Linked DNA regions of Homo sapiens: region 1 is linked to region 2. Evidence: fine-mapped expression QTL. A gene starts in region 2. The other region holds a variant in brackets. All regions are shown on one strand. Distances are between the middles of the regions.

Region 1 (9,621 bases), 180 kb after region 2:
GTGTAAGACAAAAAGCTACTTATTGTAGCATCCTGGAATATCTCCGTCAACTCATATTTTCATGCTGTTCATGAAAGATTCAATGCCCCTGAATTTAAATAGCTTTTTTCTCTGATACAGAAAAGTTGAATTTTACATGGCTGGAGCTAGAATTTGATATGTGAACAGTTGTGTTTGAAGCACAGTGATCAAGTTATTTTTAATTTGGTTTTCACATTGGAAACAAGTCAGTCATTCAGATATGATTCAAATGTCTATAAACCGAACTGATGTAAGTAAACGGTCTCTCACTTGTTTTATTTAACCTCTAAATTCTTTCATTTTAGGGGTAGCATTTGTGTTGAAGAGGTTTTAAAGCTTCCATTGTTGTCTGCAACTCTGAAGGGTAATTATATAGTTACCCAAATTAAGAGAGTCTATTTACGGAACTCAAATACGTGGGCATTCAAATGTATTACAGTGGGGAATGAAGATACTGAAATAAACGTCTTAAATATTCATTTACTGGTTATCATGAGTACGTGTTGAGATGGTCATAGTTTTTTTTATGACTACTTCTAGTGTATATTCTAATTTCTTTTCTAGGCCTGAATGTATCTTTATTTTCATGTTATAGGACAATATTAAGGCATTTTAAAGGTCATCATCCTTTCATCTATTTTAGATACACCTACTAAATGTTTAATATATACTTTTGGAGAAGTACAACATAAGGGAGTCTTTAATCTGTGTTTTCCTTGGCTGGGTTAATGACTGTTTATTTAAAGAGTGTTGTAAAATTGGATGTGTGGTGTTTAAAATGGCCATGTCCTGAGGAAACTTAAGTAACAAAGTACTAAATGCTAAGTAGGCTTTTGCATATTGTAACTAAATTTAAGAATAATTCAGATTAAGTAGTTCTGAAATTTGGTATAGATAGCATAGATTGTCTCATGCTCATGAGTGACATAATGACCCTGGATTCTGTTACATACTTCTAAAGAAAATTGATTGTTGTCTTAGGAGGCAGTTAACTTGGCTGAACACCAACTCCACACTCTGTCTTGTTTGTAGGTGGCAGCAGCTGAAATCTCTTCTCAGTTGTTTTAGCTTTAGCTATGCTGCTGGAAGTCTTTCCCATGCAAGTGTGTAGTTCAGGGGTCAACCAGAGTTTGGGCAGAAGGAAGTCTGCCCCTTCTGTGCCTCCTGTTTTTTGGGGGTTTCCCCTTTATGTTCCAGCTGTTGTGGTTGCCCCATATTCTGCCTTCTGATCCTTAACCAATAAAACTTGGCTTTTGTTTCCCCCTCAAGTGAGAACCCGTTAAAAATGAGACATTGAGCCAGTGCTGTTCACTTTTTAAGTGCCAACTTCCCTCTACTTTCCACTTGTTTATAGTTGTTTCCAGTGCCTTTAGTTTTTTCTAAAATATATTTGTTCAGAGTTTGCAGTTGCTATCAGCAGGAGGGTTGGTCTGATATCTGTGTGCTACTTTGCCATTATTGGAAGTGAACTCTGCATCTTTTTAAAAATTTGAAATCCCGGTATCATGTGAAGTGCTGTTTATGTAAATCTCAACATATCCCTTACTCAGGGAAAAAAAAGTTTTTAGTTAGGGAATAGTGAAATATAATTTAATATGGAATTCTAGCTGTAGAGTTAAATCCATCTTTAAGTGTTTACATTCAGTATGAGAATGCAAATTTATCTGTATGGGGAATAAAGTCCTAGGAATAAAACAAGTTTTAAGTGTTCACTTACTGTTATCTACTAAGCTGTCAATATTTTTGTGGCTTGTGAAGAGTGAAATTAATTGTCCACTTCATTGAACTGATTAAAATTAGTAATTTCAACTGGCTGGGAGCGGTGGCTCACTCCTGTAATCCCAGCACTTTGGGAGGCCGGGGCGGGCAGATCACCTGCGGTCAGGAGTTTGAGACCAACCTGACCAATGTGGTAAAACCCCATCTCTACTAAAAATATAAAAATTAGCCAGGTGTGGTGGCAGGCCCCTGTAATCCCAACTACTCAGGAGGCTGAGGCAGAATCACTTGAACCCAGGAGGCGGTGAGCTGAGATCATGCCACTGCATTCTAGCCTGGCGACAGAGCGAAACTCCGTCTCAAAAAAAAAAAAAAAGTAATTTCAAAGTGAGATCTTTAGTTGTTTAGCTGAAAAGGAATGGAGAGTGTTTCTACTGTTCTAAGTAAAATACTACATAATTGCTCTAGTAGATGATGGGGTATGACCATTTTTGCTAGTTATTGGGATTTTTTTTTTTAATTAAGTTCTGGGGTACATGTGCAGAACATGCAGGTTTGTTACATAGGTATACATGTGCCATGGTGGTTTGCTGCACCCATCAACCCATCATCTACATTAGGTATTTCTCTTAATGCTATCCCTCCCCCACCCCCATCCCCTTGTCCATGTGTTTTCATTGTTCACCTCCCACTTACAAGTGAGAACATGTGGTGTTTGGTTTTCTATTTTTGTGTTAGTTTGCTGAGAACGATGGTTTCCAGCTTCATCCATGTCCCTGCAAAGGATGTGAACTCATCCTTTATTATGGCTGCATAGTATTCCATGGTGTATATGTGCCACATTTTCTTTATCCATTCTGTCATAGATGGGCATTTGGGTTGGTTCCAAGTCTTTGCTATTGTGAACAGTGCCTCAATAAACATACATGTGCATGTGTCTTTATAGTAGAATGATTTATAATCCTTCGGGTATATACCCAGTAATAGCATTGCTGGGTCAAATGGTATTTCTAGTTCTAGATCCTTGAGGAATTGCCACACTGTCTTCCACAATGGTTGAACTAATTTACACTCCCACTAACAGTGTAAAAGTGTTCCTATTTCTCCACAGCCTCTCCAGCATCTGTTGTTTGCTGACTTTTTAATGATTGTCATTCTAACTGGCATGAGATGGTATCTCATTGTGGTTTTGATTTGCATTTCTCTATTGAACAGTGATGATGAGCTTTTTTTCATGTTTGTTGGCTGCATGCATGTCTTCTTTTGAGAAGTGTCTGTTCATATCCTTCACCAACTTTTTGATGGGTTTGAAGTTCTTTGCAAAAATTTTCTCCCATTCTCTAGGTTGCCTGTTCACTCTGATGATAGTTTCTTTTGCTGTGCAGAAGCTCTTTAATTAGATCCCGTTTGTCAATTTTGGCTTTTGTTGCCATTGCTTTTGGTGTTTCAGTCATGAAGTCTTTGCCCATGCCTATGTCCTGAATGGTAATTGCCTAGGGTTTTTATGGTTTTAGGTCTTACGTTTAAGTCTTCAATCCATCTTGAGTTAATGTTTGTATAAGGTGTAAGGAAGGGATCCAGTTTCAGCTTTCTGCATATGGCTAGCCAGTTTTCCCAACACCATTTATTAAATAGGGAATCCTTTCCCTACTGCTTGTGTCAGGTTTGTCAAAGATCAGATTGTTGTAGATGTGTGGTGTTATTTCTGAGACCTCTGTTCTGTTCCATTGGTCTATATATCTGTTTTGGTAACAGTACCATAAAAGTGACAAATTATTGCTTTGGGCCAGAGGAAAGTTATTAACTTACAGCTGTTTACATAACTGTTGTCCAGGCCCAGCTTCAGATGCAGCTGTGTTGGATGTGTGGGTGGTTGTTAAGCAGTCCACAGAATAGTCTTGCTCTAAGAATGTGTGAAAAAAACACATAGGGGCTAGCCTTTTATACAGCTAGTTAGGCAATAAAGTTGACATGGGCCTGGCAATTACTTTCGTTAGATTAGTTGCAAAATCACATAAAATACAATACAAAAGCTGAGAAATTAGAGCATCATTCTGTGCTCTGTAGTATAAAATACAATACAAAAGCTGAGAAATTAGAGCATCATTCCGTGCTCTGTAGTAGCATTGCTCAATTGGCAGGAGCAGTATCCATAAACTCTGGCCTGATTTAACTGAAACCTTCCCCTCAGTAACCCTAGTCCTTTTCTAGGTGGTAATGACTACAAACCCTAGTACATCCTGCTGATTTTCTAAAATGTTGCTTTTTCTCATTCCTAGAGCAAGGAATACTTACTTACAGGAGTTTTGATGGCTGGAGCAACTCAGCAACCATTGAAATAGTGATGGTAGCATAGACTATATTTGTCCTCCTTAACCTCAACCTGGGAATCCCACTGGGAGGTGATTGGGAGGAGGGGAGTCAAGGGTGTGGAGTTTTGGAGGATGTTTACCTGTCAAATAAATATAATAGCTTGTTTATAGACAACATAAATTAGGGTCTTCATGGACGCAGTAAACTTGTTTATAAATCCACGTTTACAGTGAAAAAAGGGATTCATCAACAATCAGTGAAAGTAACAAGTACACCAAAATATATACAAAAGCACTGTACTTTATTTAACTCCATACAAAATGTGATTAAAAACATTAAATAGGTGATGTTTTATTTTGAAGAGCATTAAGTCAGTTTTTAAAATGTAGTTGTTTTACCTTGTTCACCTCAGCCATTTTTTATTCTCCTCTGTTACAAGCATGTGCTATACACAGCAACTTTCTGGCTTATATCCTTTAGGAGTGAACGGACTTCTCCTTCCAGTCTTGCTAATTCTTGAGCTTTATCTTCTAAGTATCTTTGATTGTCTTCATATTTTCTTTCTAAATCTGTGGGGAGATATATATATATAAAGTCTGAGCAATTTATACTATGATGATCTCAAGACAAAGTGAATATATTTTTCACTTTTAAATAAACTATGGATGCCTTAAAGTAATTTAAAAAATAAGCCTGTGTGAAAAGACCCACCTTTGAGCAGTTGCAGCTTGCTATTTGCTTGAGCTAAAAGAGTTTTTGCTTCATTTTGTAGCATTTCGGCTTTCCTTCTGGCATCAGCTGACTCTTCAGTTTTTTTGGCAATTAAATTTTCTACTTTTTTATACTTTTCATCAAGTTCACCATCTAAAGTCTATAGTTCCACATTTAGACAGAAAGAAGTGGTAATGTTAGTGTCAGTAATTACATTTAAGAGCAATAGTGTAATCATGGCATGCATTCTGGATTAAGGGCCACCAAGGATATTCACTGGTAAGTAATTTAAAATTTTATCTTCAAACAGTGGAATTGAATGCAAAATTGACATGATTTTAAAGAACATTTCAAAAAATTCTGGAGTTGCAGCAAATCCTTAGGGCTAAGTCCTCATTCTCCTGATTATTACTTTTCTATAGAAAAGTTGTAGCATAATTGTATTGCAAATTACATAGAGAAGCGCAGATTTTTCAAAAGTAGATTAGACATTAGAGAAGCCCATATTGAAGAAGTGGAGGCTCTTTGGATCTTGACTAAATTAGGATTTGTGAAGACTTGCTTATAAGGAAATCAGAGGAAAAAGATTAAACAAAAGATACAGGAAGGAAAGGTGAGATTGTAGCATATGCAAGAAGTGAGTGAGGAGAAGAGAAATGGGGTGTGGGGTTGGAATGCAAATGATTCTTTTTAGAAACTGTTCAAATAGCCATTTATGGAAATTTCATTTCAAGAGATTTTGTTCCTTTCTCTTGTGATAAAATGTCATTATGCAAAATGCCCTGAAGCAGAGTACTTGAGAAATTTGTGTCCTCAGTACTGCAGGAAACCACACAAACCAAAACAGAAAAGACAGCTGTCTGATATTGTGGCAGTGAACTTTTCTCATTGTTTTGTTCTCTTTCCCAACCTAGAGAGAGGTAGGGAAAGTTACTCTTACGTAATGCCCGAAAAGCTACAGTAACTTCCAGAAAATTTTTGAATAGTAGGGAGTTAAATACTGAAATTAGGTCAGTAAATGCAGGTGCCCCCAGGCCTACGGACCAGTTAGGAACTGGGTGGGCAGGCAAGTATTATTGCCTGAGCTCCACCTTCTGTCAGATCAGTGGTGACATTAGATTCTCATAGGAGCACGAATCCTATTGGGAAC[T/C]GTGCATGCAAGGGATCTAGGTTGTGCACTCCTTATGGAATCTAATGCCTGATCTGAGCTGGAACAGTTTCATCCTGAAACCATCCCCACCCCCGAGTCTGGAAAAATTGTCTTCCAGGAAACTGGTCCTTGGTGCCAAAAAAGTTGGGGACCAGTGATTCAATGGTTTTAAGCCCCACCCCGGCGCCACCAAGTTTTTAATGTTCTCTTTAGAAATAAGCATTATTGAGAAACTGAACATGTGTTTCAGTTATTACATGGCTTCTGATTAAACATTTGGGTTGTGTGAGTTTTTCTCTGCAAAATATAGTGCCTTCGAATGAGAGGTGAGGGGTAGTTAATTCAAAATGAGTCTCAAAGAGATAAGATTTGGTTTCCTACTACCTGTTCTCTGTTCCAACCTGCTTGTAAAATATTCTCAAATGGCCTGATAATTACTATATGCCATGAAGAATTTAACTGACTACCGCACAGAAATAAAAGTTCAATATGACTGGTTTTTGTCAATATAGTTGGTTTAAAAAAAAAAAAAAAGCCTGTTTTGAGACTTCTACCCCTAAGTTAATTCCGTTCTTCTAAACTCTTGTCCAAATTTGGATTTGAGGACATAGGTCATACTTATTAGATATTTCCATATTCTTTCCCATCCACACTTCTAAAGACGGCTGTTGCAAAACAGGTCATTTGATATTTCTGATGAATTCTGTTTCTGTTAGGTCCATGTCCCTTACTCTAAGGCAGGCAAGGAGGAGACTGGTGGCTCCTTTAACAACATAGCTCTGAAATTACAAAGATTTACGTACCTTCTTAACATCTTCTGCACTTTGCTTCACAGTATATACTACTTTTTCAATATATTCTGCCTCCCCGGAGTTTTGGGCAGCTTTCCGCTTAAGTTCTTCCACATTCCTCTCTAACTCGCTGATGCGCTGGGACGCGTTGAACAAGGTTTCCTCAGAAGCTGCTGTTTCAGACTCAATCTAAAAGCATGTCAATTTTCCAGCAAGACATTAGTTTAAGAAATGGAATTACTATGAGTACAAGTTTGGAGGAAGATTTAAAAGTCTGCTGTGCCATTTTGCTCTAGACCAAAAGAAGTAATTACTAAAAAGAATATTTCAGGAAAAGTTACATGAAGTATCTAACTTTAGTCTTTGCTACATTTCATATATTCACTTCATTCTTTCAGTACTTCTGATGATCTAAGCTGAGATTGATGTAAAATTTTTTCTGACAGTAAAAAAAAACAAAAAACCCCACCTCCCCAAGGAGCATGATGTGTTGAGAAAGCATTTTAAGGACACCTGCAAACTTTGGCTAAAGAACATTCACAAATAAGCAGCTGTGCGAAGAGGGATTTCCACATAAATTTCCAACTTAATGTGAGTGGGAAAATAAATGTTAAACTCTAGTAGTGGAGATTTCAGCTAATTACTGAAGACATGGAGACTAGGGATGTTCTTTGAATTTCTATAGAATTGTGAGATGATGTATGGTCTGGGAACGTTACAGCTGTAAACTCTAAATACACAAAGTTATTTAGGGAAAAAAAAATATCTGGGCAACTGGTGAGGATCCACATCTGATCTCCTTTCAAAGTAGAATCAATAAACATTGACTTTTAAAAGCTAGCCAAAGTAAGCAGTTGAGCCCATGACAAAAGAATCAATTTCACTGAGCACTCAATTTTTCTTTAAAATGATCTTCAAGGATGGGTCTAATTACATAGAATTAACTGAATAACAGTACTGCTATAATGAAGTTAATAAGGGTCAGTATAAGACATAGGCTAAAATTTGTAAATATTTCAAACCTAAGGACCCTTTAATTAGAATAAAATTCTTAGAAATTATAATTCTTAGAAGATAAAGTTTGAGTGAATTGTTTCTGATAAGCTTTCATGAACACAGTTTAGTTAGAGGTTCTCTTTGTTTCTTATTGTTACTAACCTAAAACACTTCCTGCCCCCTAGGGCCCCTGAAAAACAGAACCCCAATTATTAACTTGCATCATCAAGCCACATCTCACCTATAATTCAGTATTTTCTAATTTGCTTTTCAGAACAATTTTTTTCAAGAAACAGGGTCTTGCTATATTTCCCAGGCTGGAGTGCAGTGACTGTTTGTTTACAGGCATGATCATAGTGCACTATAGTCTCAAACTCTTGGCCTTAAGTGATCCTCTCACCTCCACCTCCCAAGTGGCTGGGACTACAGGCACACACTGCTGCACCTGGCTTTCAAAACAATAATTTCTACAGTCACTGACATAATATTCACTAAAATATTAACAGCAAACTGAGAAAATGGAAAAACCTAGAGATCGAAACATCAAAATATTTATAGTCTGGTGGGAAAACATAATTTTTCTAAACTTGAACAAATAGCCTGAAGAAAAAGTCTTATTGATACTCGAAATTTAAGGAGGAAAATGGACAGAATTATTGGCCTTCATTTAACTGACAGCAATAGAATAGGGGAACACAGGTTTTTACCAACTAATGGTAAGAAAAGCATGTTGAAAATTCATCTTCCCAGGTTTTAAACACATGGAGGATTGGCCTGAGAAGGCTGACAATGCTGGGTATGGGAGCATTTAATTTCAAAGTATATTCTGAGAACCTGTATAGGGATTAGATAACTCATCAATTTTCTTCATTTTTTAAAAACTCGTAAAATTGGAACGAAAACATTAACTTTCTGAGAAACAAAAGAATTTAATGGAATTATGTTTGCATTACTTCTTTTAAGAGATAAAGAGGATTTTTAGAGCAAGGTGCTAGATCCCTATGAAAAATTCGTAATGAGTACTTTTAATATCTGGTAGTCACAGTATATTTCTTATAAAAAACATTAAGTTTTCCATGCATTCTAAACAGAACAGATTGTTTAGCTATAAGTGCTCTATTAGGTTTCTCTAGAATTGGGTATTGAAAGCAGACTGACTGTTCTCCCATAGTTTCCAAAACTACTATATAGTAAAATGTTTGATGACCAAAATCTTGAGACATTGGCCTTCTTAACCAGATAAGCTGCTTTATAACATCAGGACAGTTTTCTAAAATTATTATACTTCATACTACTGAACAGAGTATATGCTGTTTCCTCAATGAATAGGAGTGCTTTTTTTTTTTTTGAGATGGAGTCTCTGTTGCCCAGACTGGAGTACAGTGGTGTGATCTCAGCTCATTGCAACCTCGACCTCCCCGGTTCAAGCAATTCTCCTGCCTTAGCCTCCCAGGTAGCTGGGACTACAGGCACACACCACTATGCCCAGCTAACTTTTGTATCTTTAGTAGAGAAGGGGTTTTGCCATGTTGGCCACGCTGGTCTTGAACTACTGACCTCAAATGACCCACCCACCTCGGCCTCCCAAAATGCTGGAATTACAGGCGTGAGCCACCATGCCCGCCCAAGAATAGAAGTTTTTATCTTTCTCAGACTTTGTGGGGGAGAAAATGAGATGGGACGTAATGGTCCAGTGTCTGAATCAGAGTCCTTTTATTCCTTGAAAACCTATCTCCACTTATTTTTAGCATCCATGCTAACGGAGTAGTTTAGATTTATTAAAGGAATCCTTTAATGTTGAGTTGTAAGAATTTCTGTTCATAGATAACAAATGTACTTTTCTGGTAAGTGTATATGTAGGTGTGTTCCCATTCATGTAATGATTGTGTATGCCTACCGAAGTTAACAGGTTCTGGGTTC
Region 2 (9,828 bases):
CCAGCTGCAGACACAAGGACTGTAATTGTCATGAGTATTTCTTCCTTCTTTTGTTAAAAACATGTTTGTGCATGTATACACTTGTACTAAGAAAATATCTCCATTTTATTTCCTTTTTCTGTTACCATGTGACATAAGATTTATTGACTTCACATCAGCATTTAAATATTAACTTTATGTAATAGTATTTGGGTAGGAGATTGGTGCGTTTCCGTTTGTACAAAGGATGGTTTTATTATGTTAGATGTAATTATGACCTTATTATTGTCTTTATTTGAAGATGATGTGTGATCTCAGGAGATGTGTATGGGTTCAAGCTGACAAGTAGTAGACTTATGATGGTTAGTGCTGAGGGTCAACTTGATTGAAGGATGCAAAATATTGATCCTGGGTGTGTCTGTGAGGGTGTTGCCAAAGGAGATTAACATTTGAGTCAGTGGGCTGGGAAAGGCAGACCCACACTTAATCTGGGTGGGCACCATCTGATCAGCTGCCAGGGTGGTTAGAATATATAAAGCAGGCAGAAAAATGTGAAAAGACAAGACTAGCCTAGCCTCCCAGCCTAGATCTTTCTCCCGTGCTGGATGCTTCCTACCCTCAAACATCGGATTCCAAGTTCTTGTTTTGGGGCTTGGACTGGCTCTCCTTCCTCCTCAGCTTACAGATGGCCTATTGTGAGACCTTGTGATTGTGTGAGTTAATATTTAAAGTCCCTTTAATAATAATAGGATATTTAATAATTTAATAATAATAGGATCTATCTATCCTATTAGTTCTGTCCCTCTAGAGAACCCTGACCAATACAAAAAGCTCTTCAAAACATCATGGGAGCTATAAAGCAGTGGTTTTCAAACTTGAATTATAACCAATTAGTGCACTTTGACATTATTTTAGTGTATTATAACCAACATTTTTTTTAAAGGGACAGAATAAAAATAGCAGAGAGAACTGCATATAGAAAGGGTAAGTATAGTTTCATGACACTTACATATATGCTTAGGTGTTGTGAGTTTATGTACTGGACTATGATGTAGAATGTATTTCTGACAGAAACATTTATTTAACAGTAACAGGATCTACTTACAAACCAAGTGGACCAGGTGTTTTAGTCTGTTTGTACTGCTGTAACAAAATACCTGAGACTGCGTAATTTATAAACAATAAAAATTTATTTCTTACAGTTCTGGAGGCTGGGAAGTCCATGATCAAGGTGTCAGCAGATTTAGTGTCTTGTGAGGGTTCTCTGCTTCCGAGATGAGCACCCTGTTGCTTATATACTGGAAGGGATGAATGCTCTGTCCTCACATGGCTCACAGGCAGCTCTCTGAGGACTCTAACGGCAATACCATTCATGACAGCAAAGCCCTCACAGCTAAATCACTTCCCAAAAGGCCCCACCTCTTAATATCACCACCTTGGGGTTTAAGTTCCAACATATGAATTTTGGAGGAATACCTTCATTCAAACCATAGCACCAAGGAAGGCTGAAAGCCTTTTTCAACTGGCATGGAGTGGCAGCTGAGGTTAGGGTCAGGGGCCCTTGAACAAAAGCCTTCTTAAGTTTAGGAAACAATATACAGACTAATTGCTTACTACAGAGCAGTTTAATACCCTAAGCATTCTTTTAGGAGTGAACTGGAGGCAATTATATTAGCAAAGAAGCTGTAGGGAGGGACAGGTCTATCCAGCTCAAAGGATATCCACAACAAAATTTTCCTTCTCAGAAAAGAAGGAAGGCTGCAGGACCTCTCTAGATCAAAAGGTTCCTTTTCAAATGAGTACATATATTGCCAGGCCTCAACGAGAATGAATCTCCTTCGAGACAGGAACGGGACAATGCCTTCAATCAGCAACATTCTGTTTTTACAGTCTATTTCCCTCTTATTCTCTGAATCTGCCTCTTGCCCAGTTTTTCATGGTGTTTGAAAAGCTGGCTGCCATAGCTTGATAAGGCATATATCTAACCAGGATATTTTACTGCCTTTTCCATTTCTGCTTATCAAACGTATTAATATATACTGGACACTACCTGGATCCGTTTTTTTTTTTTTACTAACAATTCATTCATACTTCATGGCATTTTGGCTATCATAGGTATCGCTGGCTTCCTGGTCAATTGTTCTTGGTCTAGGTGTAATAGTATTACACTTTAATTCTGACTGATTGTTCATCAACTGATTCATCTCCCCACCCCAAGTTAAGATTTGCTCATTGTTTTTGAATATATTTTGCTGGATTATATTGTTTCTATGAATATATTATGCTGGGTTTTGTTAAATGCTCTATTTCTTTACTGTTACTCTGAAATCTTACTTTTTCAAGGTGCTCCATAATAACTTATTTTTTTAGAACTCCCAAACATGGATCAACAGTACAAATAAAGCTCTTCACTGTCCTCTATAGAAACCATACAATTCTCACATCTGTGCCCTTGCTTTTCTCTGTGTGATATGCCTTTTATTGCTCTCCTCCTCTCCAAATTTTATCCATTCACATAAGGCTCAGCTTAAATCCCTCCATAAAGCTAACCTAACTACTCTCAGTCCCACTACTTTATCTAAATGTAAGTAGCACTGAATTTCCTCTCAACACTTAGAACTAAATTATATAGATCTTCACATATTTCTTAAAATGATATCCTGTAGGATCCTTGAAGTAGGGGCCATTATTTATACAGCTTTTGCCTTATGCAGTCCTAGGCAGGCACTCAGTGGGATACAGTTGAAAGAGTGTTAGGAGATGAAGGTTTTTGTCCTTACTTGGTACTGAGGAGTCCGTAACAGGCTATTGGGGAAAACAAGCTCTCTGATACCCCTCTTACTTTTCTCATAGCATAAACAGTAACTATGTAAATGGGAGGCTATCAAAACATCTTGGAGACCACTACCTTATAATTCATAGGTAGTAGATGGTCTTGCCAGTAAGATAAAAAGGTGCACCTCAGTGCTTCAGACTGCCCATTACAGTAAGTTTTCACTTTTATAAACCTTAGGTCAGCACCTAAACTATATATAGCTTATATATAAGCAATATAAACCTTATGCTCTATAAATAAATATTAATGGCAACTCTTGATAAAGAAATTGTGACTGGTTACAGCACGCTGGTCGCTGAAAAGAGATACTAGAGGGCAGTAATAAAACATAGGTAAAGAAATTAATTTATCACACTGCTACTGCATTGGTAATTCAAGGCAACCACAATTAAGGGGGTAAATACAGACCACAGATGCTAAAGCAATGCCTGAAAGTAAGAGATGTCAAATCAAATCAAACAAATGTTTAACATTTTATCAGATCTAAAGTAAGTACATCTTCTCTCAGTAAATTTTCTTGATGCACCATAAAATGCCAACAAAACTTCTAACTTACAGGTTAAATTATATAAAATACAATTTGAAAGCTCTTTTTAATTCTAATTATTTAAATATTAGCATCAGCAGACATTAATAATACTATTCTGAACCTGGATTTCCATGAATCTGAAGGTTAACCGTTAGCTGATAGGCTAAGTATGATAGAACAAAAAAATCAAAGCCAGTGGTGGTGATGAGCATCTGTAGTCCCAACTACTCCGGAGGCTGAGGCATAAGGACCCCTTGAGCCCGGGAGTCCAAGGATGCAGTGAGCTATGATTCTGCCATTGTGTTCCAGTTTGGGCTGCCCCATCTCTAAAAAAAATTTTTTTAATATGAAAAAGAAGTACTTTCTAAGTGAAAACTTAAAAAAAAAAAAAAAACCCAAATTGGTGAAAAATGCCTGACTATATCAACACTGTATTTAGAAAAATAGGGAGGTATGGGAAAAAGGTTAGGCAAGCCCCAATGCCCAAAACAATAATCCCAGAAACTGAAAGCATCTTGAAAACCACCTAGCAATACAGAACTTTACATTTAAAAAAAGCAGGGGTAATTTTGATTCACAAATGTCCTTAGTTGTGAATGTACCTAAAAACTTGTTTATAAAGCTGCATATATAGAGCAGAAAAATCTTTTACAAGATCTCAGGAAAATAATCACCAAATAACATGGTGCACTTAAATCGCACTGATCATCACAGCATGATTCACAAATAATACCGTACAACTACAAAGATATAACACATCGCTACACATACTTTATTTGCAATTCAGTACCATGAAAACATTTCTCTAAGAGGTCAATGTAATAATCTTTTATTGATATAGGAACTCTGGCACTGAAAGCTTGAATAACCCAAGGTAATGATGTCGTCACCAAGGGAGGACAAGAATAGAACCCAAATCCCTTGACTCCCAAGCTTGTGTTTTCCATTAATTGTGCTCCTTTCTATTCATCCAAGAGCATCAAGTGTAAAAGGCTGGAGAAAGGAGTGGACACAAATGAGCCAAGTCCGCAAGGTGGAGACTGCACTGAAGGTCCTAGGAATCGCCCCTTGGCACTTTCCTTTTGTGTTGGCTGAGGAAGATGAAAGCAGCAACAACCACAAACTCCTGGGACCAAGAACTGGAACTAGGTACTGCTTGTTGTGGTAACTCTCTTCCTCATTTTAGGCCTTTCCTTTTTAACCTCTCCTTCCGGCCAAGCCTTCGCGCTCTCTTCCCCTCCCTCGGTTTCTATCCGCTCCCGTTAGCTCCACTCCGCACATTCCTGCAAGGTGTCCCCGTTAAGAGGAGGCAGCTGCGCCGCACTGGCTCTCCACCCTCCATCCGGCCCTGGCGCCCAGTCGTCAGGTGTTCGAGAGGTTCGTAGCGTCACAAGCGCTCTCCCTAGAAAGTGAGTGGCAGTCAAGCATTATAAACGTGTTTCAACTGTAAAGAGACTTAAGAGATGGGAACCGGGGCATATACCAAGTTAGCTCTGCGTGGGTCTAGGTAGCTCGTCACGACAAAGCAAAATTTAGACAAGCGTTGAGACTTTCCTTCTAGCTCCGAGTTTCACAGCTCCGCCATCCCCTGAGCAACCTCCCACTGGAGGGCGCCTTCCGGAGCGCGCGTGTTTACACTTTTGCTACACCAGGCGGAGGAAACAAGCGCTCGCTGACCCCGGGGGATTCCAAACCGTTACTCCGCCCGCCGGGGTGGGGCCAGCGCAACGGCCGAGCCTGCGCAGCCAGCCGGCTCCGGGGGCCCCGCGCACTACAAGTCCCAGAAGGCAGCTCTCCGCGGGGCGGGCAGTCGCCTTATCTGCTTCTGGCTCATTTTTACCACTGCTCTCCCCTTCCCCGGTCCCCCTGGTGTCCTTTCCACAGTTAAAGGCTACTTTCTCTTGAAGCACATGAGGAGAAGCCTTAGCAACCTCAATACCGAAGTTCTTCGCGCGCTCGCTCTTTCTGCCTCCGCCCGAACTATGCCTGAGTCCCTCACAGGAGTTGGATAGTAGAGGCGAGAGAAGGAAGTCTTTGCAGGCCAAAATTGGGACAACCTGCTTGGACTTCCGCCTCCCGGCCTCCGGAAGGCAGTGCGCACGCGCTCGCTGCGACTCCGGCGCGGTTGACTTCCGCTCCCACTGTGCTCTGCGAGCCGAATCATGGATCACACTGGTAAGGAGGCGGAGGCAGTGGGGGTCCCGGTTCCAAGCCCCCTTGGCCGGCCTGGGGCTGGTCGCACAGCAGGCAAAAGGGATTATGCTCGCCCCACAACACTAGGGTGTGGCAGTGAGAAGAAATCTCACAGATGCCTTCCTGTGCCCGGCAGGGGCCTGCGGTTTCCTGGCCTACCGTCTGGTGTGGTACCTACCTCCTCCGTGCCGGCAACAACCGCTCCTACTCTGGTTCTGCTGAGCTCCGAGCCCGGACCAGTGGGCGATGTAGGCCTTCGGGAAGGGAGAGCCCCGGCTCTGTTTTATTTAGCCCAGCTGCTCTGGCCTACGTTATGGAGACTGGCGGGTAGATTGCGGTCTCCGAGTCGCGGAATCCTCTTTACGCTGGGAGTGGACGGGCGAGAATGGGTTGGAGACTTCCTGCTGTCTCAGTCAGCTTTGGGCGGGTGCTGCAGTGGTCACCCCCTGTCGTCTCTCCGATCCTTTATGGACTAGAGGGGTGAAAGAAGGGAGTCTGATAGAGTTTTTGGAATCAAACTCGGAGCAGTTTTTCTACCTAAACCAAAAGCATGCCCCGCGCTTCGGCTGAGGTCCTTACTCATCATTTGAGGGTATTTACAAAGAGGAGTTTAAAATCAAGGCATTCTCATACTTTTCTCCAAGTAAGAGTGGCTCCACCCTTTGTTATGTATTTTCTGGCTTTTGCTTCTTTGTGGTTCTTGGATATTGAATGAGTGCTCTTGGAGTTATGTGCCCCATACATTTATAGCGACCGTATCACAAATAGAGAAAAAAAGGCTTTTTCTTGAGTATTGAGTTGTCCTCACTCATCAGATATCTACTTGGTTATATAATTAGGTGTGTATGTTTATTTATGTAGGTGTGTATGTTTATTTATGCAAGATACATGCAGATATCTATAGGTCGGGAGATGGAAGATGGAATGGTAAACGAGACGGACCAGGTCCGTGATAGAACTTCTGTTTTATGGAGGAACACAGACAATACGTTCTTTTTTTTTAAATTTATTATTTTTTTAATGTTTGCGGATTATTTTGAAGAAAATAAACGAGTGCTGTGGAGAGATTCATAGGACGAAATTTCAGAGAGGGTTGTTAGGAATGGTCTTTGTGGAAGCTAAGATCTGATGGATGAGAAGAACCCAGCCCTGGGAAAAAAGCAAGAGGAAGAGCATTTCCAGCAAGTGCGAAGGCACTGAGGTAGGAAGATACAGTGAAGTCAGCTGCAGCCTCCTAATAGCCAGAGGGTAGGAGTCCTGAAGTGAGATTGGAAAGGAGGGCAGCAGGCACATCATTCAGGTCATTGAAAGCCGTGGTAAACGTTTGAATTTTAATTTAAGTGAATATGAAGCCATTGAACAGAAGTGGAGGAGGAACACAGTCTCTTAAAAAATACAATAGGCTGTTCTATGAAGAATGGTGTAAGAGAGGGAGGTAAGAATGATGGAAAATAGCTGATTGCAGTAGACGGGAAGGGAAGGTTGGTTTGGTGAAAATGAAGGAGAATGGGCAGCTTCAGTAAATACTCTGGTGGTGTTTGAAGGAATGTGAGAGAAAGGAGAAATGCCTAGGCTTTTGGTTTGAGCAACTAGGTAGGGTCCATTATTGAGCTGAGGAAAACTTGGGGCAGAAAACAATCTTTTTTTGTAGAGGTGAGACGGGAATTTGGGAACAAGTGTTTGGTCTTGGACTGCTAGTGTGAGATAACTACTGAGACACAGGAGAGATGCCAAGTGGAGATGAGAGGAAAGATCTGCACTGAAAATACGTATTTGGAAGTTAGTACCTTTATTTATAGCTGGTATTTTAAAGCATGAGGACAGATGAGACCACTTAAGAAGGGTGTGTTCAGAGGAGAAGCCGGCCTAGAACGAGGCTGTAAAGAATTCCAGTGTTTGGGAATTTATAGAGTTGAAACTGGGATTTTGATGTTAGAATAGCAAACATTCAACTTTAGGAAAGTAATTCTTATTTGAGCCCACTACTGGAATTATGAGTCAAGTTCCTGCCATAGTTTAGAGGCTATTATGTTAGGAAATCATAATAGGGGTGAGTGTAAAGAGTGTTTATTATCTTAATTCTTGAAGTTTAGAGATTGCCTAAGGAAGTAAAACTCATCTTAACATGAAAATACTCACGAATGAGCTGACCACTTAAAAAATTAGTTCCCTCTCAGATGTCCCTTCTGCTTAACACTAGCTTCTTACCTATTTTATTTTTTTTAAATGAATCAATCTCTTTGATGTTTAGTATCAGAAGACAGTATCAAATACTGTGCACTGATTGTGAAATAAAATTATAAACCTTGTAGAAGATTCTGGTTTTCATGAAATTCGTAAACATGAATTTGATAATTGTTTAAATCACAAAGGCTTTGACAAATGAGGAAATGCCACTTAGCTAGATAATTGAAGAATCATGACAGGATAGGCATCTCAAAAGAATAATTGTAATATTAAAGGATTAAGAGGTCCTTGGGGAAACAGATGAAACCCTTGAACATTATGCAAAAATGACCCATTTTATGATCATACCGAAACATTCAAATGTGAAAATGAAGGTGTTCTAATAGAATCTTGCCAGAAAAATTACTCCAAGGGGCTCCCCATTAACACTGGATTTATTCTTTGGTCATTCTAAGAATTAGCACTTCTGTAACTGTATCCCAGATTTTGTAAAAGATCCCAGATTTTGTAAAATATTTATTGGTTCTTTTTATTCAAGATAAAAAATCCCCAATCTTTTTTAAACTATATGATATGGAAGTGTTGTGCCTTTTTAAAGTGAATTTATCTGAAGTGGCCAGTAGTCCTTAGTCACTTTCTATGTAATATCTAAGAAATTTTTGTTGTTAAGGACTTTATAATTTGTTACTGTATTCAAAAGGAAATAGTGCTTTATGCTCTGATTCTTAATTTAAAAACAACAAAAAGCAAAAAAGTCCCAAAGAAACCCAGAATGTTATCATTATTAAATGCTGTACCTCATGAACTTGAATCTGTGAAGCAGAGTGGGAAGGGCCAGCCAGCTCTTGAAAGTGGTAGACTATGCAAGCAACAGTAGAGACCTCAAGTGTTCAGGATGGTGTGAAAAGGACTTGTAATGAAGTGTTGGTATTTTCATTATTCACAAAGGTAAAACGATTAAACCATTTTGATATTTGAATATTTAATATTTGAGGGACAGCATTGAACTGATTATATGTCTACAACGACTTGCTTTTTAGTTCATTGGAATGTCAGGAATACTTTTTGAGCAAGGAAAAAAGTCATTCATATTTCTTTTGGCCAATGCATTGCTTGTAAGTACTTTTACATACATAAGCAACTACAATGAAAACAGATCAAATACATTAATCAGCTTGTGAGTCTATTTAATGAAGTGTTGAAAGCTGATCAAGTTGGGTTAACCCTAACTCAAGATTCTAGCTAACCATGTAATTCCACCCCTCTTTGTTTTAGGATTAGCTGTTATAAGAGTAGTAAGTAGATTAAAATAATCGTTATGGACCCATTTTTAATTTTGTTTGGTATTTTGTTCAGAAAAAGTGCAAATGAATGTGAACTTATTGTGTGTCTGTAATCCTAGTAGCCTTGGAGGCCATTGGTACTAGCTTACTACTTCCAAATTTGGCTTTGCTGAATTTAATGTGGATGGTTTGGCTATCAGTCTTGACTGTAATATTTCCTGCAGGGGCAGTTATACAACCTTGTTCAATAACTTGTCATGTTTAAAACACTACAAATTAAAAAATACGTTATTTGTATTTCCTATTTTAAGCATTTTCCTTCTTTAGTAGGTCAAGTTAAATATTTTCTGTATTATATATTTTCATCTACTTGAAAAAAGGTAACTCTTAAGCTTTAGATGGAGTCAGTTCTATGAAATAATACTCCTGTTACTCATGGGACAAGAATTAATTTATTCTATAGACAATAACAAGCAAAGACTCCAGGGACTAGAAAGTGACACTTGTTTAGACCTAGTTGTAGTATAGGAACTTTGCATCCTCTTAAATTATAATTTTCCATTACAGTGCTGACTAAGAACTCAGTCACATGTTATAGCACAAATACATTATTGCATGTTTTTACTACTAAATGGTATAATGATTTTTACTATATTTCTGAATGATTTTTAGAATAATTATTTTGCGCTTAAGGAATAATCACATTTCTTAACTTCATTTTCAAACGCATTGTTTAATTTTGCCTTCATCAGTATTAGTAAGTTCAGTTTACTAAATTTATTTTCTGCTTTGCATGCTTGATGATCAGACATGGAGACAGG

The links.
Region 1: its variant is fine-mapped to the expression of CBLL1 in whole blood (TOPMed, PIP above 0.99).

What each region holds. Positions count from the first base shown.
Region 1 is chr7:107,919,466-107,929,086 of GRCh38, forward strand. DLD (dihydrolipoamide dehydrogenase) reads left to right here. Exons shown (of 14, transcript NM_000108.5): 14 at 1-1,733. It overlaps LAMB1 (laminin subunit beta 1), which reads right to left. Exons shown (of 34, transcript NM_002291.3): 31 at 9,599-9,621; 32 at 6,718-6,894; 33 at 4,765-4,924; 34 at 4,334-4,622. The coding sequence ends at 4,486. Among named protein-coding and RNA genes, the nearest start is that of DLD, 33 kb to the left of the region's middle. The variant T/C (reference allele first, on the strand shown) is at 5,915.
Region 2 is chr7:107,738,658-107,748,485 of GRCh38, forward strand. It overlaps CBLL1 (Cbl proto-oncogene like 1), which reads left to right and starts at 5,485. Exons shown (of 6, transcript NM_024814.4): 1 at 5,485-5,519. The coding sequence starts at 5,507. CBLL1-AS1 (CBLL1 antisense RNA 1) reads right to left here and starts at 5,924. Exons shown (of 2, transcript NR_144537.1): 1 at 5,716-5,924; 2 at 4,096-4,746. RefSeq lists enhancers at 4,074-4,593, 4,594-5,112, 5,210-5,429, 5,780-5,959 and a silencer at 4,970-5,169.